Homo sapiens: one gene and its partners. The protein of the gene in region 1 interacts with the protein of each later gene in a biochemical or structural test. Each region holds a gene or a part of one and is shown on either strand. Other genes may lie near its edges. The genes, in order: PKN1, CCNT2, AKAP9 and PLD1.

Evidence for each region.
Region 2: the proteins of PKN1 (region 1) and CCNT2 form a complex in vitro, tested with the Homo sapiens proteins (one study listed by BioGRID).
Region 3: the proteins of PKN1 (region 1) and AKAP9 form a complex in vitro, tested with the Homo sapiens proteins (one study listed by BioGRID).
Region 4: the proteins of PKN1 (region 1) and PLD1 form a complex in vitro, tested with the Homo sapiens proteins (one study listed by BioGRID).

The regions. Positions count from the first base shown.
Region 1 is NC_000019.10:14,450,302-14,457,329, reverse strand, and holds part of PKN1 (serine/threonine-protein kinase N1), read right to left. Parts: intron 7,013-7,028; coding exon 6,867-7,012; intron 6,435-6,866; coding exon 6,221-6,434; intron 5,502-6,220; coding exon 5,307-5,501; intron 1-5,306. UniProt on the Homo sapiens protein: PKC-related serine/threonine-protein kinase involved in various processes such as regulation of the intermediate filaments of the actin cytoskeleton, cell migration, tumor cell invasion and transcription regulation.
Region 2 is NC_000002.12:134,914,994-134,921,821, reverse strand, and holds the start of CCNT2 (cyclin-T2), read right to left. Parts: upstream 3,001-6,828; 5' UTR 2,968-3,000; coding exon 2,810-2,967; intron 2,013-2,809; coding exon 1,931-2,012; intron 1-1,930. UniProt on the Homo sapiens protein: Regulatory subunit of the cyclin-dependent kinase pair (CDK9/cyclin T) complex, also called positive transcription elongation factor B (P-TEFB), which is proposed to facilitate the transition from abortive to production elongation by phosphorylating the CTD (carboxy-terminal domain) of the large subunit of RNA polymerase II (RNAP II).
Region 3 is NC_000007.14:91,999,856-92,006,883, reverse strand, and holds part of AKAP9 (A-kinase anchor protein 9), read right to left. Parts: intron 6,037-7,028; coding exon 3,649-6,036; intron 1-3,648. UniProt on the Homo sapiens protein: Scaffolding protein that assembles several protein kinases and phosphatases on the centrosome and Golgi apparatus. Required to maintain the integrity of the Golgi apparatus. Required for microtubule nucleation at the cis-side of the Golgi apparatus.
Region 4 is NC_000003.12:171,681,458-171,688,485, forward strand, and holds part of PLD1 (phospholipase D1), read right to left. Parts: intron 6,128-7,028; coding exon 5,914-6,127; intron 5,342-5,913; coding exon 5,228-5,341; intron 1-5,227. UniProt on the Homo sapiens protein: Function as phospholipase selective for phosphatidylcholine. Implicated as a critical step in numerous cellular pathways, including signal transduction, membrane trafficking, and the regulation of mitosis.

The DNA of each region.
Region 1 (7,028 bases):
GTCTATTATCTTTTTCTTTTTTTTTTTTTTTTTCAGTAGAGATGAGTCTTGTTATGTTGCCCAGGCTGGTCTCAAACTCCTGGCCTCAAGTGATATTCTCCTGCCTCAGCCTCCCAAGTATCTGGGATTACAGGCATGAGCCACCAGGCCTAGCTGTCTGCTATCTTTTTAAAATGAATCCTCCCCTCCATAACTTTTCTCCCACTGTAAAGTTTTGCATTTGACATTGAAGCCTTTAATCCAGTTGATTTTTTTACATGGTGTGATGTGAGGCAGGGATCCAAATTCAATTTTATTCTACATGGAAGTCCCAGCCACATACTCCTAAGGATTTATTTATTCATTTATTTTTTGAGCCAGAGTCTCTCTCTGTCACCCAGGATGGAGTGCAGTGGCACAATCTCGGCTCACTGCAACTTCCACCTTCTGGGTTCAAACAATTCTCGTGCCTCAGCTTCCAAAGTAGCTCAGACTACAGGCGCACACCACCATGCCCAGCTAATTTTTGTGTTTTTAGTAGAGATGGGGTTTTGCCACGTTGGCCAGGATGGTCTTGAACTCCTGACCTCAAGTGATCACTGGTCTTGGCTTCTCAAAGTGCTGGGATTACAGGCGTGAGCCACCGCGCCCAGGCACTCCTGAGGATTTACCCTAGCCAAATGCATGTGGGTATACATCAGGAGATGCATTTATATAAAGTGTATGTAACAGTCCAAAATAGAGGCATCCCACAGTCCATTAACAGGAGAATTAATATTTTAAAACTGCTATACCATCTTAGTAGCTGAAGTACGAAATTGCTGATATTTAACTATTTTTTTGCTTTCAGAAAGAGGCAATTCGATATGGCTCAGTCTAACATAATGGATTACTAAACAGGAATAAATATGAATTAACTATAGCTTGTCACAACAAAATGGATGAGTCTACCAAAACAATGCTTTTTTTAGTTTGGTTTTGTTTTTTGCATTTTTTTGTAGGGTGGGGTTTCACCATGTTGCCCAGGCTGGGTTCAAATTCCTTGGCTCAAGCAATCCCTCCACCTCGGCCTCTCAAAGTGCTGGGATTACAGGCATGAGCCACTATGCCTAGCCCCTAAACAATGTTGAATGAAAGAAGCCATGTGATAGAATAGTCTGTATGAGCCTGTCAATATAAAGTTCTAATACCAGGCAAAATTAAACAAAAGTTTTTGGGGATGCAAACATGGGGTTCTACAACTACAAATTATAGCAAGGAAATGATAAAAGTCGGGAGAGTAGCCACCTCTATGGCAGAGGAAGGAGATGGAATTGTGGAGGAGACAAGAGGGGGCTTCTGGAGAGCTGGAAATATTCTATTTCTTTTCCTTTTTTTTTTTTTTTAAGATGGGGTCTCGCTCAGTTGCCCAGGCTGGAATGCAGTGGTGCAATCACAGCTCACTGTAGCCTTGACCTCCTGCGCTCAAGCAATCCTCCCACTTCAGCCTCCCAAGTAGCTGGGACCGCAGGCACAAGCCACCATGCCCACGCCTGGTTAATTTTTGGTTGGCTTGTCTTCTCTTTTTTTCCCTTTAGTTTTTTTTTCTGTGACACAGATTCAGGAGGGCCTGATGACATGTACCCCCAATTTTTTTTTTTTTTGAGACAGAGTCTTGCTCTGTCACCCAGGCTGGAGTGCAGTGGCGCGATCTCGGCTCACTGCAAGCTCTGCCTCCCAGGTTCATGCCACTCTCCTGCCTCAGCCTCCCGAGTAGCTGGGACTACAGGCGCCCACCACCACGCCTGGCTAATTGTTTGTATTTTTAGTAGAGTTGGGGTTTCACTGTGTTAGCCAGGATGGTCTCGATCTCCTGACCTTGTGATCCACCCGCTTCGGCCTCCCAAAGTGCTGGGATTACAGGCGTGAGCCACCACACCTGGCCATATGCCCCAATTTTTAAATTATTTGTAAAGACAAGGTCTTGCTATGTTGCCCAGGCTGGTCTTGAACTCCTGGGTTCAAGTGATCCTCCTACAAATACCAAAATGCTGGGATTCCAGGCATGAGCCGTGGCACCTGGCTGCCATATTCTATTTCCTAACGCAGGTGGTGGTAATATGGGTGTCTGCTCTCCTGTTACTCTTCTCCACACTCCCTTTTTTTTTTGTACATACGTATTAATTTTCTTTCTTTTTCCTTTTTTGCCATGAGATTACGAATCAAATTTTCTTTTAAAAAAATTATGGCCAACATGGTGAAACCCCATCTCCATAAAAATACAAAAATTAGCCGGGTGTGGTGGCGCACGCCTGTAATCCCACCAGCTATTTGGGTTGGCTGAGGCAAGAGAATCGCTCAAACCGAGGAGGCAGAGGTTGCAGTGAGCTGAGACGGTGCCACTGCACTCCAGCCTGGGCAGCAGAGGAGAATCTGTCTCAAGAAAAAAAAAATTATGGTAAAATACATGTAACATAAAATTTACCATCATAATCACTTTAAAGTGTCCATCCAGTTCAGTGGCATTAAGTACATTCACATTGCTGTGCAACCATTACCACCATCCATCTCCAGAACTTTCACCTTACAAAACTGAAACTCTGTCCACATTAAATAATAAACTCCCCATTCCCCCTCCCTCTACTCCCTGGCATCCATCATTCTACTTTCTGTCTCTATGAATCTAACTACTCTAGGAACCTCATATAACTGGAATCATACAATATTTGTCTTTTGGGGACTGGCTTATTTCACTTAGACTAATGTCCTCAAGATTCATCCGTGTTGCAGGATAAGACAGGATTCCTTTCCTTTTTTTTTTTTTTTTTTTTGAGACAGTGTTTCACTCTGTCACCCAGGCAGGAGTGCGGTGGCATGATCTTGGCTGACTGCAACGCCTGCCTCCTGGGCTCAAGCGGTTTTCCTACCTCAGCCTCCTGAGTAGCTGGGATTACAGGCATGTGCCACCACACCCGGCTAATTTTTGTATTTTTAATAGAGATGGGGTTTCACCATGTTGGCCAGGCTGGTCTCGAACCCCTGACCTCAAGTGATCCACCTGCCTCGGCCTCCCAAAGTGCTGGGATTACAGGCATGAGCCACTGCGCCTGGCAGGATTTCTTTCCTTTTTAAATCTGAGCAATGTTCCATTGCATGGCTGGCCCACGTTTTGTTTACCCATTCATCTATTGGTGGATCTGGGTTGCTTCCATTTTTGGCTTTCATAATGCTGCTATGAACACAGGTATACATATCTCTGAGACCCTTTTTTTTTTTTTTAAATATTTTTCTATCACTATTTTTAAAACTGACAAATAAAAATTATATATATTTATCATGCACAACATGTTGTTTTGAAATATGTATGCATTATGGAATGTCCGAGGCCCTGTTTTTAATTCTTTTGGGGATATGCCCAGAAGTAGCTTTGGATCATATGGTTACTCTTGTTTTTTTGTTTGTTTGTTTGTTTTGAGATGGAGTCTCATTCTGTCACCCAGGCTGGAGTGCAGTAGCATGATCTCTGCTCACTCCAACCTCTGCCTCCCGGATTCAAGCAATTCTCCTGCCTCAGCCTCCAGAGTAGCTGGGACTACAGGCGTGCACCACCACCAAGCCCGGTTAACTTTTGTATTTTTAGTAGAAATGGGGTTTCACCATGATGGCCAGGCTGGTCTTGAACTTCTGACCTCAGGTGATCCACCTACCTTGACCTCCCAAAGTGGTGGAATTACAGGTGTGAGCCATTGCGCCTGGACTGCTTACTCTGTTTTTACTTGTTTCAGGAACTGCCAATATTCCTTCCTCCCTCCCTCCCTCCCTCTCTCTCTCTTTCTTTCAGACAGAGTCTCGCTCTGTTGCCCAGGCTGGAGTGCAGTGGCTCGATCTAAGCTCACTGCAACTTCTGCCTCCTGGGTTCAAGCGATTCTCCTGCCTCAGCCTTCTGAGTAGCTGGGATTACAGACACACACCACCATGCCCAGCTAATTTTTGTATTTTTAGTAGAGACGGGGTTTTGCCATGATAGCCAGGCTGGTCTCGAACTCCTGACCTCAGGTGATCTGGCCCCCTCAGCCTCCCAAAGTGCTGGGATTACAGGTGTGAGCCACTGCACCCGGCCATGCCAATATATTTTCCATAGGGCTGCACCATTTTACATTCCCACCAACAGTGCACAAAGGTTCTGATTTCTCTCCACATCCTCACCAACACTTATTTTCTGTTTGTTTTGTTGGGTTTTTAAAATAGTATTAGTCATCCTAATGAATATGATATATTGGTTTCTTGTTTGGTTTTCCTTTCTTTTTAAATTTGTTTTATTTATTTATTATTATTATTATTATTTTGAGATGGAGTCTTGCTCTGTTGCACAGGCTGGAGTACGGTGGCACAATCGCGGCTCACTGCAACCTCCGCCTCCTGGGTTCAAGCAATTCTCTGCCTCAGCCTCCCGAGTAGCTGGGATTACAGGCACGCGCCGCCACGCCTGGCTAATTTTTTTGTATTTTTTGTAGAGATGGGGTTTCACCATGCTGGCCAGGCTGGTCTTGAACTCCTGACCTCGTGATCCACCCGCCTCGGCCTCCCCAAGTGCTGGGATTACAGGCGTGAGCCACCACGCCCAGCCTTTTTTTTAATCTAAATAAACTTGAAGTTTTTTTTCTTTTTTTTTAATTTAGAGACAGGGTCTCTCTGTCATCTAGGCTAGAGTGAAATGGCTCAATGATAGCTCACTGGGCTCAAGTGATCCTCCCACCTCTAGAACAGCTAGGACTACAGGTGTGGGCCACCACATCTGGCTAATTTTTACATTTTATTTTTTGTAGAGACAGGGTCTTGCTATGTTGCCCAGGCTGGTCTCAAACTCCTGGCCTCAAGTGATCCTCCTGTCTCAGCCTCCCAAAGTGCTGGGATTACAGGCATGAGCTGCTGCACCTGGCCTGTTTTTTTGTTTTTGTTGTTGTTTTCGTTCTCTTTTGAGGCAAAGTCTCACTCTGTCACCCAGGCTGGAGGGCAATGGCGTGATCATGGCTCACTGCAATTTCCACCTCCCGGGTTCAAGTAATTCTCCTGCCTAAGCCTCCCAAACAGCTGGGATTACAGGTGTGCACCACCATGCCCAGCTAAGTTGTATTTTTAAGTAGAGACAGTGTTTCACCATGTTGGCCAGGCTGGTCTCAAATTCCTGACCTCAAGTGATCCGTCCACCTTGGCTTCCCAAAGTGCTGGGATTACATGTGTGAGCCACCACACCCGACCCCTGGCTTATTTTTTAAAGGTTTACAAATATGGGGCATTCCAGGTCCCCAATGCCACCTCGTTTCTCAGGGCCCACGATGCCCACTCACTGGTGTTCTCGGCTTCTGCTTTGAGGCTGCTCCGGCCACTGAGGCTTCCGCTTCGGCTGTAAAGGCCCCGGGCTGGGCGGCTCAGGAAGGGGGGGCGGCTGTCTGGGGTCCCAGGTCCCCCCATTGAGGGGGTAGGGTTCCACGGGATGGTCTCTGGGAGGTCTCTGCAGCCCACCACTCGTACCTCCAGGGTCCCTGCAGGAGGGGAAAGCTCAGCAGGGGGCCACTTCTGGGGCAGGCTGAGCGGAGGGGACCACAGCGGGGAGGGGACACATCCAGACGCAGCCATGGTACAAGTGGGAGCCAGTGAGGGACAACCAGAATGGAGCATGGGGCATGAGGCCGGGATGTCCGTGCTGGGATAGGAGAATATGAGAGAAGCAGTCCTTCCAGGAGGGGCTCAGATGCGGGAGTTTAGGGGCAGAAGAGAGGCTCAGGGTACAGGCCGTAGGCTCAGGGTACAGGCCGTAGGCCCAGGCAAGCAGGAACAGGGTAGGACTAGGGGTTCTAGGGGAGGACTCGGTGGACAATCTGAGGTCTAAGATGGGCTAGGGGTCTACGGTGGGGCTGGTCTGGAGGGGTAGATGGCTGAGGGGTCTGTGGAAGGTGGGGCTGGCTGGTCTGCAGCAGGCGGGTAGGAGGCTCATGGCTGAGCGTTGTGAGGCCGAGGTGGGGCTGGGGAACAAGGGCTGGGAGAAAAATACTGGGCCAGGTGAAGAGAGATGGAGAAACTGAGGTGTGGGGGGGGTGGGCAAGAGCCCAGAATCAGAGGGCAAAGGAGGGGAGGAGACAGTGGTGGAATGGGAGTCCAGGGTTGGGGAGAGCGGAGATTGAAGTCGGGGGTCACAGGAATGGGGAAATGAGAGGAGTCGGAGGCCCAGGGCTGCAGGGGTGGGGTAGGGTCTCAGACCCACCTGTGAGCGGCGCGGGCTTGCACAGGGTGCTGTAGTGCGTGGCGGGAAAGGGCCCGGCCAGGCGGGTGCTGAAGGCAGCGGAGGAGGCCGCAGCGAGCTCTTCTCGCAGCAGCCGCCCCTTGGGGTGGTCGGCGGGCAGCTCCCCAAGTCTCCGCTCCAGAGCCTCCCGCAGCAGCCCCAGCTTCTGGTTGGATTCTGTTAATTTCTCCTGGGCCTGTGGTGGGAAGTGTGGGGGCTGGGGGCGGGACCAGGCTTGCCCCTTCCCAAGTGCAGGCCTAGGCCCCACCCCCAGGCTGAGTCTCACACTGAGCTCCTCCCTAGAGGGCTAAACCTCAAACCAACTTGGTCCCACCTCTGGGAAAACCAGGCCCCGCCCCTTGGAGAGGCCCCTCCCCTCACCGAGGGCCATTCCTGCCTGAAACCATGCCCCCTCGCTGAGGCCCCGCCCCTCACAGTTGCACTGTTCCTGCCTGATGCCCTGCCCCTCACAGTAGTCTACCCTGGCTGAGGCCCCACCCCTTATGAAGGTCCCACCCCCTTTGAGGCTCCACCCCTCACCGTGGGTGTTCCTGGTGAACTCCCCGCCGCTTGCTGAAGCACCGCCCCTTGCTGAAGCCCCGCCTCTAATGAAAGCTCCGCCCCTCACCTCGCTGACTGCCTTGCGGTCCGGGGCCTTGGCAGCGCTGAGCAGGCGCAGTACGTTCTTGGCACCCTCGGCCACCGCGTGCTCCACTCGGAAGTGGTGCCGCAGCTCTTCGATGCGCAGCTCCACAGCCCCCAGGTCAGGACTCCCTGTGAGCGTGGAATA
Region 2 (6,828 bases), on another chromosome or scaffold:
TGGCCTTTTTATTGAAGGAAAACATTTAAGTAAAATAGTGAAAGCTAGAATGCAAATGACAATCTAAAGTTGTGAATTCTGGCTTTAAGCAGGGTATTTGTTGTAAAGCACGCCAACCACGCCATAAAGACAAATTATAAGGAGGGCTCAAAACAAAGAAGTGAAGATGGCCGGGCACGGTGGTTCGTGCCTGTAATCCCAGCACTTTGGGAGGCCGAGGCGGACGGATCACCTGAGGTCAGGAGCTCAAGACCGGCCTGGCCAACATGGTGAAACCCCCTCTCTACTAAAAATACAAAAATTAGCCGGGAGTGGTGGCACACACCTGTAGTCCCAGCTACTCAGGAGGCTGAGGCAGGTGAATAGCTTGAACCAGGGAGGCAGAGGTTGTGGTGAGCTGTGACAGCGCCACTGTACTCCAGCTTGGGTGACAGAGTGAGACTCTGTCTCAAAAAAATAAAAAAAAAATTAATAAATAAAAGAAGTGAAGACTTGTGGCTAGATCATTTATTGGAAGTACAAAAGTATGCCTGATTCGGCAAATGGGACATCTGTAGCCATATAAAGAATAGTCAGAACTATTTTGATTTGTAATTTCTACCATTATTATCCAGGGTTACGTAAGGAATGCCAAATTTATATTAACATTCATTAGTTCACTACTGCCTTTGGAGACAATTTATAATGAATTCCCTTAATCTAAATGTTATCACCAATGGCTTCCTTTCTCTTCCATAACACTATCACTGACCTAAATGTTATGCACAAGAAATAACTAGGAAACTAGAAGCAACAGAGCAAGAATTATGCAGATTTAAAAAAGAAATAGAAGAAGTCTTCAAGAGATCAAAATGTATATTAAAATACTTGTGGTCCAAGATAAACCTGTATGCCAAACTGATAAATGAAATAGGATCCGAAGAGATTAAGGTAGGACTCAATCTAAACCATGAAGCCTTTCCTTCCATTTCAAAAATAATATTCTGAGGATCTTTCCTAGGATTGTTTTCTTAGCAAATAAGTCCTAATGACTATCCACAAATAGCAGAAAGTCTTCTTTGGTCCATTTTTCTACACATACCTTTCAGAATAATATTCTAAAAATAACTATGATAAAAAGTAACAAATAAAGACAGAATTAAAGCAGAGTTAAACATTTCTAAACAATATGCAATTTTCTTTAACACACACAACACAGTATGCGTGTTACTCAACATACACCAAACTCGTATCTTTCATAAATGAAATTAACATTTCAACAAAATGCCATTACTCTATTTGTCAAGGTTTACAGGTTATATACCTTAATATTCAGGTGTAAATTTTACTAATAATACATAAACATACTCCTGACGTACTATATCTGAAGCAAGAGTGGACGTTTGAATCACCCAAAATTTTAGGAGACAACTGATGCTAACGTGATAAACAGAAACGTTGACATCTTAAGAAATTACTAGGTTAGCAAATGAAGAAATGAATTATTTCTACTAAATAGCTCTTTCAAAAGAATGTCATAATTAATTTAATCTCAATTGACAGTCTTTTAAACAATGAGTCCAACATAATTAAGATGTATCACAGAACGACCAGGCTTGCCCAATTCCACTGTACATCACTACTGAAATTATTCAAATGTTAAGTATAGAATTTAAATGAAGAAAACCTATGTAATAACTCTGTAAAGAAATAAATGTTTTTCTTTTTTAGCTTAAAAGGCCTGGCAGAGCTTAACAGTGCCTTGCAGTTTAATTCATCATAAATTTTAAAAACACAAAAACACCGCATCTGAAGCAAAATATTTATCACGTGATATACGTTTACCGTTAATTCAGAACACTAAATCCAACAACGCAATGACCAACTTTTTTTCTGCGTATCGATTTACCCTCAAATTTGCGGACAGTAAAAACAGACAACTAGTACTTACATTTTTGTTGAATTTGGTGAAAGAATGGTGCATATAAAACCTGTGCATATAAACAATCGCAGTGTTTATTGTAAGCTGAGAGCTGGAACGTAATATTTAGGAAATATCTGACAAAAGCAAGATCTCATTCCCAGAACAATTTTGATGGAAAATTCCCAGGTTCTTTTCCAATACCTCCCATTCAAATCCAAACCCCAAACTGGAAATAAAGAAATAAATGCCCGCGGGGGGTGGGGCGGCAGGAAGAGAATAGGCTTGACGCCAAATAAATGGGAATAAGAACTGCTGATCTTTTCACTCTAACAGCGCTGAGGGCCCTGGAACTATTTATCAATGGCTACGACTAACTAAACTCAAAATGAAACAGTTGAAACGCGCGCGCACACACCCATACAAAACCACGCCAAGAACATAAAGAACTCCAGTACGCTCCCAAGGTAGAAGAGAGCCGCCATCAAGCCGGCGACGAGAGCCGGGAAAGGCTGCGGCAAACACTTAGGCCTTTCAGCATCGCTAACCCTCCTACCTCTCAAACCCTTCGGGGTCAGGGACAAGTCCAGGGAGCCGCCCCTTTTCTGCAATAATCCCTAAAATTCCTCTTTCGCCTGAGCCACACTCCCAACCCCCGCCGCCACCACCACGCGCTGCCCCAAACAGATTACACAACGCAGGCTCCTGGCCCGCATTCCTGGGGTCCTATCTCCTCCTCCCTTCCTCTGCTGACCCCTCGCGACTGCCCGAGCCGGAACATTACTTCCCTGACCGCGGCGCCGAGGCCCAGCGAAGGCCGAGGCCGGCGGCGCCATGTTCGCGGGGCACCAGGCCCGGCGACCGGGCAAGGGAAACAGGGCGTGAGCGGCGGCGAACAGAAAAGGATACACATTGAGACGCTGTCCCATCTCCTGGATGAGGTTGGCCGCCTGCTGGCGGCACGAGAGCTCTTTATCCGCCTCCACTCCGCAGCGGCGGCTCGGCGTGTTCTCCAGCTGTTCCCGAGTAAAGAACCAGCGAGAAGAAGCTCCACGGCCCGACGCCATGACACTTCCTCCTCCGCCCGCTCCTTCATTCACCCCCCGCCCCTCCTGGCTCGCGGACTCCCCGCCAAGGCGCGCGACCCCGCCCCACTCCGCTCGCCGTAGACCACGCACCACCCTTTTTCACCACCGCCTCCGCCCTTGCGCATGCGCGGGGCCCGCTCTACCGACTCGCCCTAGTCTTTTGCTTTCTTTTTCTGCCCTCGGCCTCGCTCTTGCGCACGGGACCACAATGCTCCGCGCCGCTTGTCATTGGGAGGCGCCGAAGGTGGAGAGGTCGGCTCGGAAGGAAAAGGTCGGCGCAGCGCATGCCGGGTCTAGGGTTGGCGGGGCGAAGGGGTGGGGAGGGAAGGGGCGGGGAGGGGAGGGGAGGGGAAAGTGGGAGAGGGTGGACTCTGGCCGGTGTGAAGAGAGGCGGTCGGGCGGCTGCGCTGTGGGGGCCTGGGCGTGTACTTCGGAGGCCCGTCGGGCGCTTCCTTTAGACGGGAGGTCTAGCGGCCCTTTAAAAAGAGAAAAATAACCTTCACTGTCGCAGCCTCACGCCACTACTTCCATTTTCCTTTTGGGCGGGTCCGCGCAGTCTCGTAGGCGTGCGACTCCGGCCTCCGCCACCAACAGTCTCCGCCTAGCGCGCGGCTCTGGCGTTGAGCTGGCGGGGAAAGAGTGCACAGGAAGTCACGCTCCATGGCTGTCCGCACCTGAGTGCTTTTTTCACCCTACATTATCTTGTTTAAATCCCAGACCACTTGGTTTATTTTTATTTTTTCAAATTACTTGGCAAACGCTATCCAACTAGCAACGAGAAATTGAATTTCTAAATGAGGTGTTGAATCTAGACGGGGCGTGTTTTCAGGCTGCGCTGTGGTTTCTGCGAGACAAGGTTGGGGAGAATCAGATAGTGCAGGAGGAACTGAGTTAAAATTTTATCTTTAGGATTTGATGTGGGAACATCCCACATACCTGTTGATTAACTCCTGTATTTCTTCCTGTAAGAAAATGCCACTGAGCTTCACTCGGAGTTTGTGTTGTGAATAGGGTTTCTAAGTTTAAAGTCTTAACTATTTGGAGGCCGGGCACGGTGGCTCACGCCTGTAATCTCAGCACTTGGGGAGGTCCAGTGGGCCGATCACTTGAGGTCAGGAGTTCGAGGGCAAGGGCAACATGGCGATACCCCGTCTCTACCAAAAATACAAAAATTAGCCAGGTTTGGTGGCGCGCCTGTAGTCCCAGCTACTCCCGAGGCTGAAGTGGGAGGATGGCTTGAGCCCAGGAGGTGGAGGCTGCGGTGAGCTAGATCTCGCTGCTGCACCCCAGCTTGGGCGATAGTGCAAGACCTTGTCTCGAAAATAAAAAATAAAGTAATATCTATTTGCCAAAGACCATGGAGGCAAGTGATTGTTATGGGGCTCCCACGCTCAGCATACTGCATTGCACAAGAATATTGATTATAGTAGGCAGTTTTTGTAACAGTTGCTATTTCATACTCACTTCCCTTGCTTTACGTTTTATGTTGCTTACAATTTCTGGAATAGATTGATTTAAAGCAACATTTTAAAAGTGCAAACCCTTGGCCAGGTGCAGTGTTTCCCGGCTGTAATCCCAGCACTTTGGGAGGCCAAAGTGTTCTAGACCAGCCTGGGCAACATAATGAGACCCCACCTCTACAAAAGTTTTTTAAAAAATTAGCTGGATGTGGTGGCGTCTGTAGTCCTAGCTCCTTGGGAGTATCGCTTCAACCTGAGAGGTGAGGTTGCACCCCAGCCTGGGTGACAGAGTGAGATCCTGTCACACACACACACAAATAAAAGAAGTGCCCATCCTCAACATCCATTCATGATAAAAACTCAGCAAACTGGGAATAAAGGAGAACTTCCTCAACTTGATAAAGAGCATCTACAAAAATTCTGCAGCTAACAATAGATTGTTTCTGTTGTGAGAAACTACATTCTTTCCACCTAAAGTCTGACACAAGGCAAGCATGTCCCCTCTCACCAGTCTTTTCAACGTGGTACTGGGTGTTCTAGCTAACAAGAAAAGTAAATTAAAAGTATATACATATTGGGAAGGAAGACATAAAACTTCTTCTGTAAAATTTTAGGATATAAGGTTGAATACAAAAGTCAGTTTTCCTATACACCAGCAATGAACAATTGGAATTTATAATTTAAAAATGCCATTTACAATAGTACCGTCTCCCAAAGTAATACAGGTTGAGTATCACGTATCTGAAATGCTTGAGACCAGATGTGTTTTGGATTTCAGGTTTTTTTAGGTTTTGAAATATTTGAATTATAAACTTAGCCATTGAGCATCCTAATCCAAAAATTCTAAATCTGAAATGCGCCAATGAACATTTCCTTTGAATGTCATGTGGGGGCTTGAAGTTTTGGGTTTTGGAGTGTTTCTGATTCTCAGATTTAGGGATACTCAACCTGTACTTAGATATGGATCTAGGCAGGGCGCAGTGGTTCACACCTATACTCCCAGCACTTTGGGAGGCCAAGGTGGGAGATTGCTTGAGGCCAGGAGTTCAATACCAGCCTGGCCAACATGGGGAAACCTTGTCTCTACTAAAAATACAAAAATTAGCTGGGTGCGGTAGTGCATGCCTGTAATCCCAGCTTCTTGGGAGGCTGGGACACGAGAATTGCTTGGACCCAGGAGGCAGAGGTTGCAGTGAGCCGAGATCACTCCACTGCACTCCAGCCTGGGTGATAGAGCAAGATTCTATCTCCAAAAAAAAAAAAAAAGATATGGATCTGAAATATGTACAGGATCTATATGCAGAAAACTATAATAAAACTCTAATGGAAAACAAAAAAAGATTAAATAACAGAAAGCTATTCTGAGTTCATAGATTAGAAGAATCAATTTAGATGTCAATTCTTCCCAGGTTGATCTACAAATTCAGTGCAATCCCAACCAAAATTTCAGCAAGTGATTTTGCACATATTGACAAATTGATTCTAAAACTTCTATGTAAAGGCAAAAAACCCAGAATAACCAACACAATACCAAAGAAGTTGCACTGACATTACCTAACATCAAGCTACAGTAATCAAGACGGTGTGGTATTTGAGAAAGAATAGACACATAGATCAATGGAACAGAATAGAGAGCCCACCCATAAATGGTCAACTGACCTTTGACAAAGGAACAAAGGCAAGTCAATGGAGCAATAATAGTCTTTTTAACAAATGGCGCTAGAACAACCGGAAAGCCACATTAAAAAAAAAAAATCTACATGCAGACCTTATACCTTCCACAAAATTTAACTCAAAGTGGGCTGCAGACCTAAATGTAAAATGCAAAACTGTAAAACTTCTGGAAGATAACATAGGAAAAAATATAGTTGACCTTGTGTTTGGCAATGAGGTTTTAGATGCAACACCAAAAGTACAATCCATGAAAGAAAAAACTGGTAAGTTGGACTTCATTAAAATTAAAAACCTCTGGCCAGGCGCAGTGACTCATGCCTGTAATCCCAGCACTTTGGAAGGCTGAGGCGGGCAGATCACCTGAGGTCAAGATTTGGAGACCAGCCTGGCCAACATGGTGAAACCTTGTCTCTACTAAAAATACAAAAAAAGTTAGCTGGGCATGGTGGCGCATGCCTGTAGTCCCAGCTACTTGGGGTGGCTGAGGTAGGAGAATCGCTTGAACCCAGGAGGTGGAGGTTGCAGTGAGCCAAGATCGTGTCACTGCACTCCAGCCTGGGCGACAGAGGGAGACTCCGTCTCAAAAAAAAAAAAAAAAAAAAAAATTAGCTGGACATGGTGGCAGGCGCCTATAATCCCAGCTACTCAGGAGACTGAGATAGGAGAATTGCTTGAACCCGGGAGGCGGAGGTTGCAGTGAGCCGAG
Region 3 (7,028 bases), on another chromosome or scaffold:
ATTCTAATAATCATCTTCAATTTTAAACACATACACTTCAATCTATGACCTCTCCCAGCATCAATAATTAATCAGTATCTAAAAAATTCCTGCCACTCTTCCTTCTTCCTTGCATCCCAACACTGAAAAGACTTCTATGATGTTTTTATTTTTCTCCTTCTGCCCAAACTACCTAAGTGTATTAGAGATATCTGTGTGGCATCCACATTATTTCAAGCATATTTAGGCTGCTCTTAGGTGTTACTATTGTGTAAGTCACTGCTCGATTTCTTCTGTGAACTTCCCTTCCCATCAATAAAGGTTTGTCTTGGTAATGATGAACGGGCAGGAAGTTTACAGGCTTTACTTTATGTAGTCAATGTCAAATAGAGGGAATCTGAATGCCATCAAAAGTATCTTTTTAGTATCTCTTTAGTACAGAAAATAGAATTCTGGCTGGTGACAAAGACTCATGCCTGTAATCCCAGCATTTCAGGAGGCCAAGGCAAGAAGATCATTTAAGCCCAGAAGTTTGAGACCAGCCTGGGCAACATGGCAAATCCCTGTCTCTACAAAAAATACAAAAACCTAGCTGGGTGTGTGGTGCATGCCTGTAATACTAGCTACTCAGGAGGCTGAGGTGAGAGGATCACCTGAGTCCAGGAGGTCAAGGCTGCAGGATGCTGTGATTGCGCCATGAGACTCTAGCCTGGACGGCAGTGAGAGCCTGTCTCAAAAAAAAAAGAAAAAGAAAAAGAAAATTAGAATTCCTAATAAGAAAATTTGACCATCTGAGGGTCAAATTCAGGTCTTCTCCCAAAAATGCTTCCTAAAAAATTTTAAAAGATGTGTGACATTTTCACAAGTAACTGCCATACATTTTGGTTTTGAAAACAATTCCAGACATTTAACAGAACATTAACAGTTAAGCAATTTGGCCAGGCATGGTGGCTCACGCCTGTAATCCCAGCACTTTGGGAGGCCGAGGCTGTTGGATCACCTAAGGTCAGGAGTTTGAGACCAAACTGGCCAACATGGTGAAACCTTGTCTCTACTAAAAATACAAAAATTACCCAGGCGTGGTGGTGGTGCATGCCTGTAATCCCAGCTACTCAGGAGGCTGAGGCAGGAGAATTGATTGAACCCGGGAGGCGGAGGTTGTAGTGAGCTGAGATCACGCCACTGCACTCCAGCCCGGGTGACAGAGTGAGACTCGGTCTCAAAAACAAACAAACAAAAAAATCGTTAAGCAATTCGAATTTCTTGACTCTATTTAGGCAAGTAAATATATAAAATATCTCTACATTTGATATAAATCATAAATATAAAATATCTCGACATTTGATATAAGATCATAAATATGATATATTTAGGAATAAAAAGAGAAAACTTTCCAATGGCTTCCAAAGTCTGCAAGATTCTCCAAGGTCTGGTCTCTTCCTCCTTCAAACTCTTCTTCCACTCTCCCGCTCTCTCAAACTCAACTACACAAGCCTTCATTCTGTTCTTTAAACTTACCCGTGTCTTTACAATTGCTCTAATTTCAATGTCATTCAGATTTCAGCTCAAATGTCAATTCCTCCTAGAGATGTTTCCTGACCACCATATTTAATGTTGTTACTACCCTCTCCAACATTCCCAATATCCTGATGAACATCGATGCAAAAATCCTCAATAAAATACTGGCAAACCAAATGCAGCAGCACATCAGAAAGCTCATCCACCATGATCAAGTGGGCTTCATCCCTGGGATGCAAGGCTGGTTCAACATACGCAAATCAGTAAGTGTAATCCAGCATATAAACAGAACCAAAGACAAAAACCACATGATTATCTCAATAGATGCAGAAAAGGCCTTGGACAAAATTCAACAGCACTTCATGCTAAAAACTCTCAATAAATTAGGTACTGATGGGGCATATCTCAAAATAGTAAGAGCTATTTATGACAAACCCACAGCCAATATCATACTGAATGGACAAAAACCGGAAGCATTCCCTTTGAAAACTGGCACAAGACAGGGATGCCCTCTCTCACCACTCCTATTCAACATAGTGTTGGAAGTTCTGGCCAGGGAAATCAGGCAGGAGAAAGAAATAAAGGGTATTCAATTAGGAAAAGAGGAAGTCAAATTGTCCCTGTTTGCAGATGACGTGATTGTATATCTAGAAAACCCCATCGTCTCAGCCCAAAATCTCCTTAAGCTGATAAGCAACTTCAGCAAAGTCTCAGGATACAAAATCAATGTGCAAAAATCACAAGCATTCTTATACACCAACAACAGACGAACAGAGAGCCAAATCATGAGTGAACTCCCATTCACAATTGCTTCAATGAGAATAAAATACCTAGGAATCCAACTTACAAGGGATATGAAGGGCCTCTTCAAGGAGAACTACAAACGACTGCTCAACGAAATAAAAGAGGATACAAACAAATGGAAGAACATTCCATGCTCATGGATAGGAAGAATCAATATTGTGAAAATGGCCATACTGCCCAAGGTAATTTATAGATTCAATGCCATTCCCATCAGGAATGACTTTCTTCACAGAAATGACTTTCTTCACAGAATTGGAAAAAACTACTTTAAAGTTCATAAGGAACCAAAAAAGAGCCCACATTGCCAAGTCAATCCTAAGCCAAGAGAACAAAGCTGGAGGCATCACGCTACCTGACTTCAAACTATACTACAAGGCTACAGTAACCAAAACAGCATGGTACTGGTACCAAAACAGAGATATAGACCAATGGAACAGAACAGAGCCCTCAGAAATAATTCCATCATTCCCTATCACATTATCCTGTTTTATTTCTTCAGAGAATTTATCACTATTTCTCACTATCCTACTTGTTTCATTTATCATCTGCCTCCCTCACTAAAATATATGCTCTTTGAGACCAGAAACCTCTCTCTTGTTGGCCACTATATTCGTACTTGCCAAGAGAGTCAATAAATATGTTAGAAAAATGAAGAAACACATAAAACTTTAGTTAGCACCATTACATTGTAGATAGCAGAATTTTCCTGTTATTTTAATATCAGTATCTGGCAAATATAAATTATCAGGAGTGATCTATTATTATATACATATAATTCTTTAACTATATTTAGAGTTAATACTGTTTTTTCCCCTTCAGGTATAATAAAGACTCTGAAAAAACTCTAGGACTTAAATCAAAGGTTTTTTTTTCTCCCAGGAAAATATAATTTCATAACCACCTAACAACTATAGAGACTATTAAAAAGCTTAGGAGTTCATTTTCAGTTGTAGAGACTTGAAAACATCACTATGAAATAAAAACGCTGAAACCAATCTTTGAGATTATAACAAAAATTACAAAATGAAATTAATAACTTTTCTAATGCTGAGATTCTCCATAAAGTTATACAAACTCTTGTCTTTCCAAAGAAAATCTGAATCCATTAGTGTTTTATTTCCTGAGCAGAATATACAAGATAGATTAACTGAAAGAAAGGCAACAATGGTTTAAAAAAAAAAGTACTTAAATGATAAATAAATGATAGGCTCAAGTTAAAATTACATCAGAGGGTTCATTTTCATTCTCTTGTAAGGATATGAACTTATGTTCTATGAAGGTGAAACCTTAGTGTGAAATGTACATTTTTTTCATTGTGCTTTACCATATATGAAGAAGTAAACATACCTGTTCTGATTTAAGTACATTGAGTTCTTTCTGAAGTTTATCATTTTCACTTGGTTGAGTTGCTCTAAGTGATGATTCCTTTGTTACAGATGGTAAGTGATCCAAAATCAACTGTTCTTGCTTACTTTCTTCTCCAACAGTCATATTTTCAAAAGAAACTTTATCTTCCACCATTATTTTTGATTCTTCACCAAAACTTTTATTTACTTTAGAAACTGATCCTTCAGCACCCCTGCTTGTCATGGTCACAACTCCATCTAATAAAGAGCTTACTTGAGTATCACATGACTGTACATTTTCTGCCCTGTTGTGGTTAATAATGATTTCTAGCTCTCTACATCTCAATGAAACTTGTTCTTTCTCTTGCTTTAAAGATTTAACTTCTTCATTTAGAAAACTAATCTCACCATGTTTCTGTTTCAATTGTTCAGAAAGATCAGACAGTCTCTGTGACAGCTCTAATTTCTCTCGCTTGGTTACCTCAAGTTTTTCCATGAGTTCTGTTGTATCCTTTTCAACAACCTCACCCATTTCCAATGTTTCTGCTACAAAAGTTTTGTCTTCATCAAAGACAGAACTTTTCATTTTCACTGTAGTTGGATTTATTCTTTGCAAATGAAGCTCTTCATTAAGTGCTTTAAGTTTACTTTTATACTCTAATTCCTGTTTATTTTTACTGTCTTCTAAATCATCTTTTACTTTGAGAAGGCAAGCATACTCCTCTTGTAACTCTTGATAGTTAACTTCAAAGTTTTTTTCAGCAAATGAAAAAGTGTTCCTTTGCTTTTCAATCTCTTCATTTAGCTGAATACATTGTTGTTTGAGGTCCTCATTTTCCTCTATAAGTATTTCTATTTCTTTTTCCCACACAGAGTCTTTGGATTTGGACTTAATGGAGTCTAAGAAAATCAATCTTTCTTCTTGGCTAACAGGAGTATGTATTTTCAACATGTCTTCAAGGGTTTTCTTTTCATCTTTAAGAATGCTATTCTCTGCTTCAAGTTGTGCAAATTTTTCTTGAAGATCATTCTCTTTTTCCTTCATCTGTTTTTCTAACAATTCTGTTTTAAGTTGTAATTCTTGAACTTCTTGTTCAAGTGTACCCTTTTCTTTTTCTTCTTGTCTGAGTATTTCAATTTCTTTTTGAAGTTCATTGATTTGAAGAGTCATTTCTTCTGACTTTGAATTTACAAGAGACTGCTGTAAATCTTTTAGCTTTGAAATTTCCAAAATTAATTGATTCTGCTTAGTTATCAAATTGTCCTTTTCAAACTGCATGGTTTCTATCTTTTGACTCATTTCATTCTGTAAACCATCTATCTGCTGTTTATAGTGAATGCCTAAATTATCTTTAAGTTTTTCAATATTTATTCGATGTTCAATTTCTAAATCTTCCTTCAGTTTGGAAAGCTCTTCTTCGTGACTAAATAGAAGCTGTGTTCTCAGCCTCTCTAATTCAGCTTCTTGTGATTCAGCCATTCTGTCTAACACAGCATTCTTTTCTTTTTCTAACATTTCAAGTTTTATCTTGTAATTTGTAACTTCTGCTTCATGTTTTAATTCTAGTTCCTTTCTGGATTCAGATGCAGAAACAATCTCAGCTTTCAAATCTTCCACTGTACTAAGGGACTTATGTGCTTCATTAAGTTTACTTTCTTGTTCAGCTATTGTCTGTCTAGCTCTCTGAATCTGTTCCCTTGAAAAGCTCAATTCTTCAACAAGGTCTTCAAGCTGTCTCTGTAGAGCACACTTTTCTTCTAAAATTAGTCCTAGTTCTTCCTTGAGTTTTTCCTTTTGAGAGTTAGTATCTTGCAATTTTATATTCAGTTCATTTATTGCCACATTCATTAACTTTATCTGATCTTCATTAACTGTAATATTTGAATATGACCTTAAAGCATTCTCCATTTCTCCCTTATGCCGTGTTTTCATTTCCTCCATCTGTGCCATGTGTTGTCTTATTAATTCTTGTTTCATTTGCACTATCTGCTGCCCATACATCTCATCCAGCTCTGCCCGGAGTTGTTCTAACTTTCTTTGTGTTTCTTGTTCCATTCGTTGTACTATATCAGTTTCGAACTGGCTGTCTTTATGATTTCTCTTCTGAAGTTCTTCGACTGTCCCCATTAACTGTTTTATTTCTTCAGAAGACTGTCTTTCTTTTTGCTTAGAATTAGTCAGCTCTAATTTCATGTTTTTTATTTCTTGGTTCTTTTGCACAATCTGTTCTTGTAATTCTCCTAGTAATTTATCAGCAGTTGTTAATTTATCCTTTAGCTCAAGAGTTTTCTTTTCTTCTTCTATTATTTTTGTGTTTAATTCTTCAATGATTGTCTCCTTTTCCTGTATTTCTTCTTTATTTGAGTTTTCTACTTTTTTATCTTGTTCCTTTAGGAAAAAAAATGAAAATGTAAGAATGGCATTTTTAGCTTCTGGCAAATTATACTGCTTCATCTCATTACCAAAAGACTGACAGAAGTTTCTCTTTTAAAAAATTCTACAAAAAGTAAATGTTGGTCCTGCCCCTCAATTTTTTCCACAATAATGACACTTAGAACTCGTGTAACCAACACTACTTGTGAGCAAACACTACAGTAGTTTTGGCCTTCTTAGAAGAAATTTCTCTTAACATTTCTGTGATTAAAATTTTTAGTTTAAAAACCCAGTCTGATTTTAGATGTCTCCAAACTGTTACATTTTCATTTTTCTTATTAACTGATCAACATTCTAAATATTTAGTATTCTCTATAGCTAAAGTACTGCATATACTCTAGACACATTCAGAAAGATAAAAATAAATAAAAGTTCCTCACATGTATTCTGGTGACTTCAATGTGTGTCATGGGCAAGGGCTATGGAAAAAGAAAAACAACAAAAACAGACTCCTAACGGTCTGTCTTAACTTCAGTCCTGGGCTCTTAAGTCAGTCAGAAATTTAGAGATATGCAATGCTTAAAAGGCTGAACCTCAAGTGACATCTAAGACAACTATACCATTTATGGCATAACAACTTGGTCCTAGGACTTTTGGTTTAAACAGAATTTTCAAAGCAAAGCAGATACTCTCCCCCAGTTCTTATTTGGGATTCTATTTTGGAATGGAGATAGGGCTACGCCCAGACACAGGCCAAGGCATATCTGTTATGGTGATTACTTCAGCATGACAAAGTCAAGCAGAGGCCCTAGGTCAAAGTTTTGCTTCAGTAACTTACTTGCCTCTGTAAGTAATAGAGGGCTATAGTCTCAAAAACAAATAAATACATGAAATCTACAGAATGGATCAGGACATAAGTAGGTAAGTAAAATCATTTTAAAGAGACAGGAGTCCCAGGCAAACAGGACTTAAAGGTGCCTTGAATGAATGAATGAATGAATGAATGA
Region 4 (7,028 bases), on another chromosome or scaffold:
TCCTATATCTGGGTCTTAAGATGTAGTATCTACCTAAAATGCCTGTTTTTCTACCTTTTTAGTCTCTACCTACCGAATTTCTACATATGTTCAAGGCCAGTTCCAATACAGGCACTGAACAAGTTATATTTTAAAAAATATTTTGGTTTTCAAAATTTTTTGGAATTTAGAATCGTGGTTAAGGGTTTGTAGACCTGTATTTCGTCTGTGGATCAATGATGACTCTTGCAGTAGGAGTATCTTCCCTCAATGAATTACTAAAATATTAGGTTTGTAAAATATTTAAAACTCATGCTCACCTATTAGATAACAAGCTATTTAACAGCACTAGATGAATCTTACACATCCTATCCATTGCATTCCTAAGAACAGTTTAGAAACAGCTTAATATTATCCCTTGTGACGAGACATTCAAATTTGAAAAGCCTGTCTCAACTAAATTGCAAAAATAATTTTTCCCTCACTTACCTATTTAATATTGCTTAAAAGGAAAAGATCAGCACATAGTTGCTGAATAGCATTAGGAGAAACACTTAATGTAGATGACAGGTTGATGGGTGCAGCAAACCACTGTGGCACTTGTATACCTATGTAACAAACCTGCATGTTCTGCACGTGTATCCCAGAACTTAAAGTATAATACAGAAAGAAAAAGAAAGAAAGAAAGAAAGAAAGAAAGAAAGAAAGAAAGAAAGAAAGAAAGAAAGAAAAAGAAAGAAAGAAAGAAAGAAAGGGAATAAAATTCAACACTTTAAAAATAGTATCAAGCAAAATTCTCCCTCTTAGAACATAATTCTGAATGAAAAAAAATCTTGAAAATGACTGAGTGATTTTGAAAAACATATATTTCAGATATGATTCCTAACCACGTTTTTAGTGCAGTTTTTCTATATAAAAACCCATAGTGATGTTCACTCCACACTGATTTCTGTATGACACCAGGAGGTTTAATTCAACAAGGAGCCCAATTCAACATGGTCATATGCGGTCAAGTGAAATTGATATTGCAGAGAGGCTAACTCTCTTTGCATTCTCAGGAAAAGGAAGTCATTAACTCAAGTTCATATTCAGTTTTAAATTTCTAACGAAGAGTCACTCCATGCTTAATTTGGGTTTCAAGTTTTATAAGGCAACCTGAGTTTTTAAGGTATTACATGATTTAAATCTAGAGCCTTGCTCTTTAAACTTCCTTCATTTTTTTAGTAGAACTTTTCTTTTTTGAAAACAAGTTCAGAAGGAACTCCAATAATTAAAACAGATACAAGTGGGATTGTTCTGGTTGAAGAGGTACCAATAGCTGTGGGAGGGTCCTGGGGTTCACCTACTTCAATGTTCTCCTCAAAGCCTTTTAAAAACTCCAGGATCCAAGGAATCGACTTTGGAAAGCACTGCTCTAGAAGGACCCCATGATCCTTTGGCTTTTCTTTTTAGGTAAACTGTTTTCATTTTAAAAAATTAAATTTGTATTTATATTTGACTATAAAAGTAAAATGAAAACAGTACCAACAATGTGGGAAAAAAATAAATCACCTCACGCTCCATCTTCCTAACAAAGATAGCATCATTGAATGTCCTTTGTCAGCTGCCTTCACGAACATATTTTGATACAGTGGCAATTGTCCTCAAATTTTCCTTGCTCTTCCCATAGCCACCTCATTTCAGTTCATGGAAATTCCATCTTTCCAGTGGGGCCAAAGATTTGGAGTCCTCTCCATCTCTCACATCTTGTATCTAGTTCATCGGCAAATGCTGTCAGCTCGACCCTCAAAATATATTCACAACCTGCAGAGTCACCATTTGCCACCCTGGTCTGCTCTGAAGAATGATCCTTGGAAAATGTAAGTCAGCCCTCGCCTACCCTTCGCTCAAGACCATCCGATGACTTCCTATCTCACTCAGGGTCAAAATCTTACAGTGGTCTGCAAGACCTCACATAACCCACCCCAGCCCACCTCTCTGATTTTGTTCTTATCATCCTCTCCTAGCCCACTTCACTACAGCCGTATTCCTGGAACACACCCAACCCCTCTACCTCATGGCCTTTCATACTTGCTATTCCTTCTGTCGGAAACACCCTCTCTCAGTTTCTTATCCTCATTCTTCTCTTTCTTTCGATGTCAGCTGAAAACTAACCTCATGAGAGATGTATTCTCCGATGAGCCTTTACAAAATAGTAACTCTTCTCCTATGCTCTTCCTCCCGGATCATGCTCAACTATTCTCCGTGATAATTATCACCACCTGAAATGTGTTTGACTCTCTATTTGTATACACAGTTCCCATCCTTACCCTCCAACTAGTTAATTGCACTTCATCTGTTTTATTCACCACATCTCTAGCACCCAGAATAGTGATTGGCATATAACAGAAACTCAATAAACACTTATTTAATTAAATAAATAAATCTTCTATGTTTATTTTTGTATCCCCAACTACAGTTGTAATCATTGCCCAATTCCATAAAAGAGATGAACCATTTGTTACCATTCATTATGTTCTTCACCATTTCCCTACTCTTTGACGTTTAGGTTGTTCTCTCTCTCTATCTCTCTCTCTGTCTCTCAACAATGCTACACTAGACATATATTCAGTTTATCAGTGAGGGGTTGTAAACAGATGTCAAGGGTACTTTTCATCAGCAACACCATACACATGTATGATCAGTGTCTCAGATCACCACTGTGGATATCACCTCTGTCAACCTGGGGTAGGCGTGAGTTACTTACTGGACTCAGCACCTCACTCACATCTTTTCCACTTGCTGTCAATCCTATTGCCAGCAACACTATCAGTCATAATTCAGATCCATAATCTTCATGGGTTGGCAACCTCCTTTCCTCCACTTCATTTTTAACTTCAGTAATAAAGCAGCAAAGTTACACATTGAAACGATAAGGCACTACCTGGAGCTGTTTCCAACCCTTTACCTCTAATATCGGCCACTGCATGCACTCTTGACCTGGCTTCCTAGATTTCCCAGAGGCCTCCTACTTCCCAGGACTTTGAAGCTTTGTCATGCACAGGAATTACTGGGAGTTGTCCCTGAATCCACACATACACCCAGTACTAGGTGTATGCTAAATAAATATATGTCTCCCCATATTTGTTCTTCTCCATTTTTATTTTTCAAAAATTTAAAAATTGTTTTTGTGTGTGTGAGAGAGGGTCTCCCTCTGTCACCCAGGCTGGACTGCAGTGGCATGATCTCAGCTCACTGCAACCTCTGCCTTCCAGGCTCCAGCAATTCTCCCACCTCAGCTGCCAGAAAAGCTGGGACAACAGATGCATGCCACCACACTCAGCTAATTTTTGTAGAGAGGGGGTTTCACTGCGTTGCCGAAGATGGTCTTGAATTCCTGGGCTCAAGCAATCCTCCTGCTTCAGCCTCCCAAATTGCTGGGATTACAGGTGTGAGTCACTGCACCTGGCCTCTTCTCCATTCTTAAATATATATCGATGCTGTTATGATTTATAGACACAAATTTATTTAACAGTTACACTGAAGTTTTAGTTCATTGTGTGTAGTTGATTATTGCATTTTTTAAAATGCAGCGTAGCTGGACCAAGCTTGTCCAACCCACAGCCTGTGGGCCACATGCGGCCCGGGATGGCTTTGAATGTGGCCCAACACGAATTCACAAACTTTCTTAAACATTGTAATTTTTTTTTGCAACTTTTTTTAGCTCATCAGCTATCATTAGTGTTAGTATATTTTATGTGTGGCCCAAGACAATTCTTCTTCCAATGTGGTCCACGGAAGCCAAAAGATTGGACACCCCTGCCCTAGATGAAAGAATGCTGGGAATCATTACTCAAAGTCTAGCATAATTTTTCAGGTTCATTAGCACCTGCAAGCCACAGGTGACTCACATTCAGGCATGTGAGCTAGACTGTAACTCTCATCTGCTAAACAGGACATGAGAGCCCTGGCCTTAGGTTCTAGCCAAAAAAGCATAACATAGTAATCTTTATTTCTGCTAAATCACAGGTCTTAATTATGGGCACTGGGAGGATGATAAATTGGAACTCCATTGGGCAGGTCATGTATCATCTCTAACCCTGAGTTTCTTCATCTGTAAAAAGGAGATGACAATATCACTACCAAGCACTGCAACTACTCAGGGCAGTGATGGATAGAGTCTGTGCAAAATAAATGTTAGCTTATGATCTTACTAGTGTCATTTATTATGATGATTACTTATCCCCATATCTGACCAGCGGCCAAATCCTTCTTTATTCCCACCACAAGTTAAACTTATTAGTCATTCATTAATTCCTCGAGTATCTGGAGTATCTTCTTACCAAAGGCTATCAGATTGTAATTTCTGAAAATTCACACAGCATGACACATCCACCCAAAGGCCTTCAAGATTTTTAACTGGCCAGGAGCGGTGGCTCACACCTGTAATCCCAGCACTTTCGGAGGCCAAGGCAGACGGATCACTTGAGGTCAGGGGTTCAACACAAGCCTGGCCAACATGGCAAAACCCCATTTCTACTAAAAGTACAAAAATTAGCCAGGCACGGTCATGCACGCCTATAATCCCAGCTACTCAGGAGGCTGAGCTGAGGCAGGAGAATCGCTAAAACCTGGGAGGCGGAGGGTGCAGTGAGCCAAGACGGCCCTACTGCACTGCAGCCTGGGTGACAGAGCAAGACTCTATCTCAAAAAAAAAAAAAAAAAAAGATTTTTAACCAAATAAAATTCCAGCTCCCAAATGTGAATGTCATATATCTTCTTAGTCTTATATCAAAAACTGCATTTTAGCTAAATAATGCATTTTACACAATTTGAAAGCAGTTGGTGCTTTCCCATTCCAGCACCTTTGCTCAACTCACCTCCCTCACTTGCAATGACTTCCTATCACCTACCCCAATTAAATTACTTCCAGGCCTAACCCAAATGTCCCCTCCTCAAAAAGTCTTTCTGCATCATCAGAGAGGAATTCCTCCCTCCTTCCATAGAACTTCCATGACACTATTGAATTGCATGTGCCATGCATTTTCTCTTATTAGGTCTGTTTTGTCTTTGCTGCTATAAGTTCTTAGGGAGTAGGGATCTTGGATACTACAGAATGCTTTGCACAGAGCAGGCTCTCAATAATATACGTAGCATAAAAATTGCAAACAGAAAGCCAATCTGGAAACACATTCACTATGCCCATGCAGCAGACAACACAACCAAAGCTCAAGCCTAAGGGAGTTCTGCCACTTCACAAATTACTTACCAGCATGAGGTCTAGTGAGTCCTTGCTCAGACTCACTGGACGGGTGAAAGAGTTTGAAGTGGGGTTTTAAACCATGGATTAAATTGTGATGACTTCTATAGTGATTAAAATAACCTAGAGAAATTAAGAATTTTTTTACAAAAAAATACAAATATCAAATTTTCTAAACTGGAAAGCAAAGCTGATCATTTTTAAAACCAGGCAGGGCTATAACATCAGTCTTAAGATTCTGTGCAACAGAAAATTGTAGGGCTTTAAGATGGATTTCAAAGGAATAGTAAATTTACAAGATGTAGAAAGTCTGATGTTTGACGAAATAAGCTTGATATATTTCTGGATAGGAAGATAAATGTAATTTCTTCTAAGAAAAGTTTATAAAGTACATCTAATACCTTTTTCTTTTATGGCTTGGCATATTTTAGAAACCCTTTGTCATTCTGCTACCATTAGAAGTGGTAATCGTGGTCGTTATGACTTTTGTGTGGATAAAACAATAAATCTGTTCTAAAATGAGGCAAACAAAGCCACCAAATGGCATGAGGTTGAATAGAATGATATAGCGACCTCTCAACATTGCTCATTCTACTCCATTACAGAAAGACAGATTTTAAAAACAGGTATGTAGTGTCTGGCTATGGAAGAACAGTGGGTAGTTAAGATAAATTCTAGTCAAGGCCATGACTTACTGGAGGTGCTGTCAATGCTGCTGATGCTATCTGCGTCGTGCAGGTGGTGCCTGTGGAGCTGCTTGTAGAGACTAAATTTGGAGAACTTTCTTGGCTTTCCTATTCCTTTCAGTTTTGAATCCACATCATCAATACTCTTCTGGATGGGTAGGTTTTGAACAGGCTCATTTTTATCTTTGAGTCTTAAGGATTCCATAGACTCCATTGCGGCAGGCTGAGAAAAATTTTTTTTTAAAAAAAGACACTGCATAAGACATGCTGCAGTGTGGTTCTTTAATTCAAGTAGAGCTGAAGTATAAAGTTTACAAATGATGGAGGTTCTATAACAGACATGCAATAATGTCTGAGGTCAGCCACAGGGTAGTGGTGGATTCTTGTGAACTGTTTAAAAACTACCAAAGGAATATGAGGAGTTCTGCTATGGTCTTTTTTCAGTAGGCCAAATTCTTGAAATTTCACTCCAATTAAACTTTTAATCTCAAATACAATTACATGGGTTACATTCAGTGTTGAGCTCCTGAACTTGTTCCTCTAATAAACATTAAGTAAGCAAGGCTTCCTCTGTCAATCATTTTCCCTGTTCCTTATGCACTAAATTGCTATTTTTGCATAAGTTTTGCACTATTTTCCAGCAGTAAATAAGATGAAGCCCATCAAATTTTTTAATAAGTGTATTCATATTCTGGCAGCCATTTAGTTGAAATAGCAAGCAGATTGATATACACTTTTTTTAATAAGTGTATTCATATTCTGGCAGCCATTTAGTTGAAATAGCAAGCAGATTGATATACACATACAGATATTTTGGCAGCTCTATTTAAAAGGCACTTTGGGAAGTTATTCACTTCTGGCTCAAATTCCCTCTAAATGACCCCAGACTGACCTATCCTGTTTTTGTATATCTTTAAGTAGGAACTTTCCAAAAACTGTGGCAGATACTTAAGGCTTTTTACTACCTAAATCTCAATTGCCACATATTTTTGTTTATGAATCTTATTTCTGAATAAAAAATAAATCTTAATTAAAATGGAAAACAAAGCTGAATATGGGACAGCCAAAATTCCACTGAATCTGTTTTCTTTTCTTACAAGAGAAGAACAGACTCAGCAATGCTA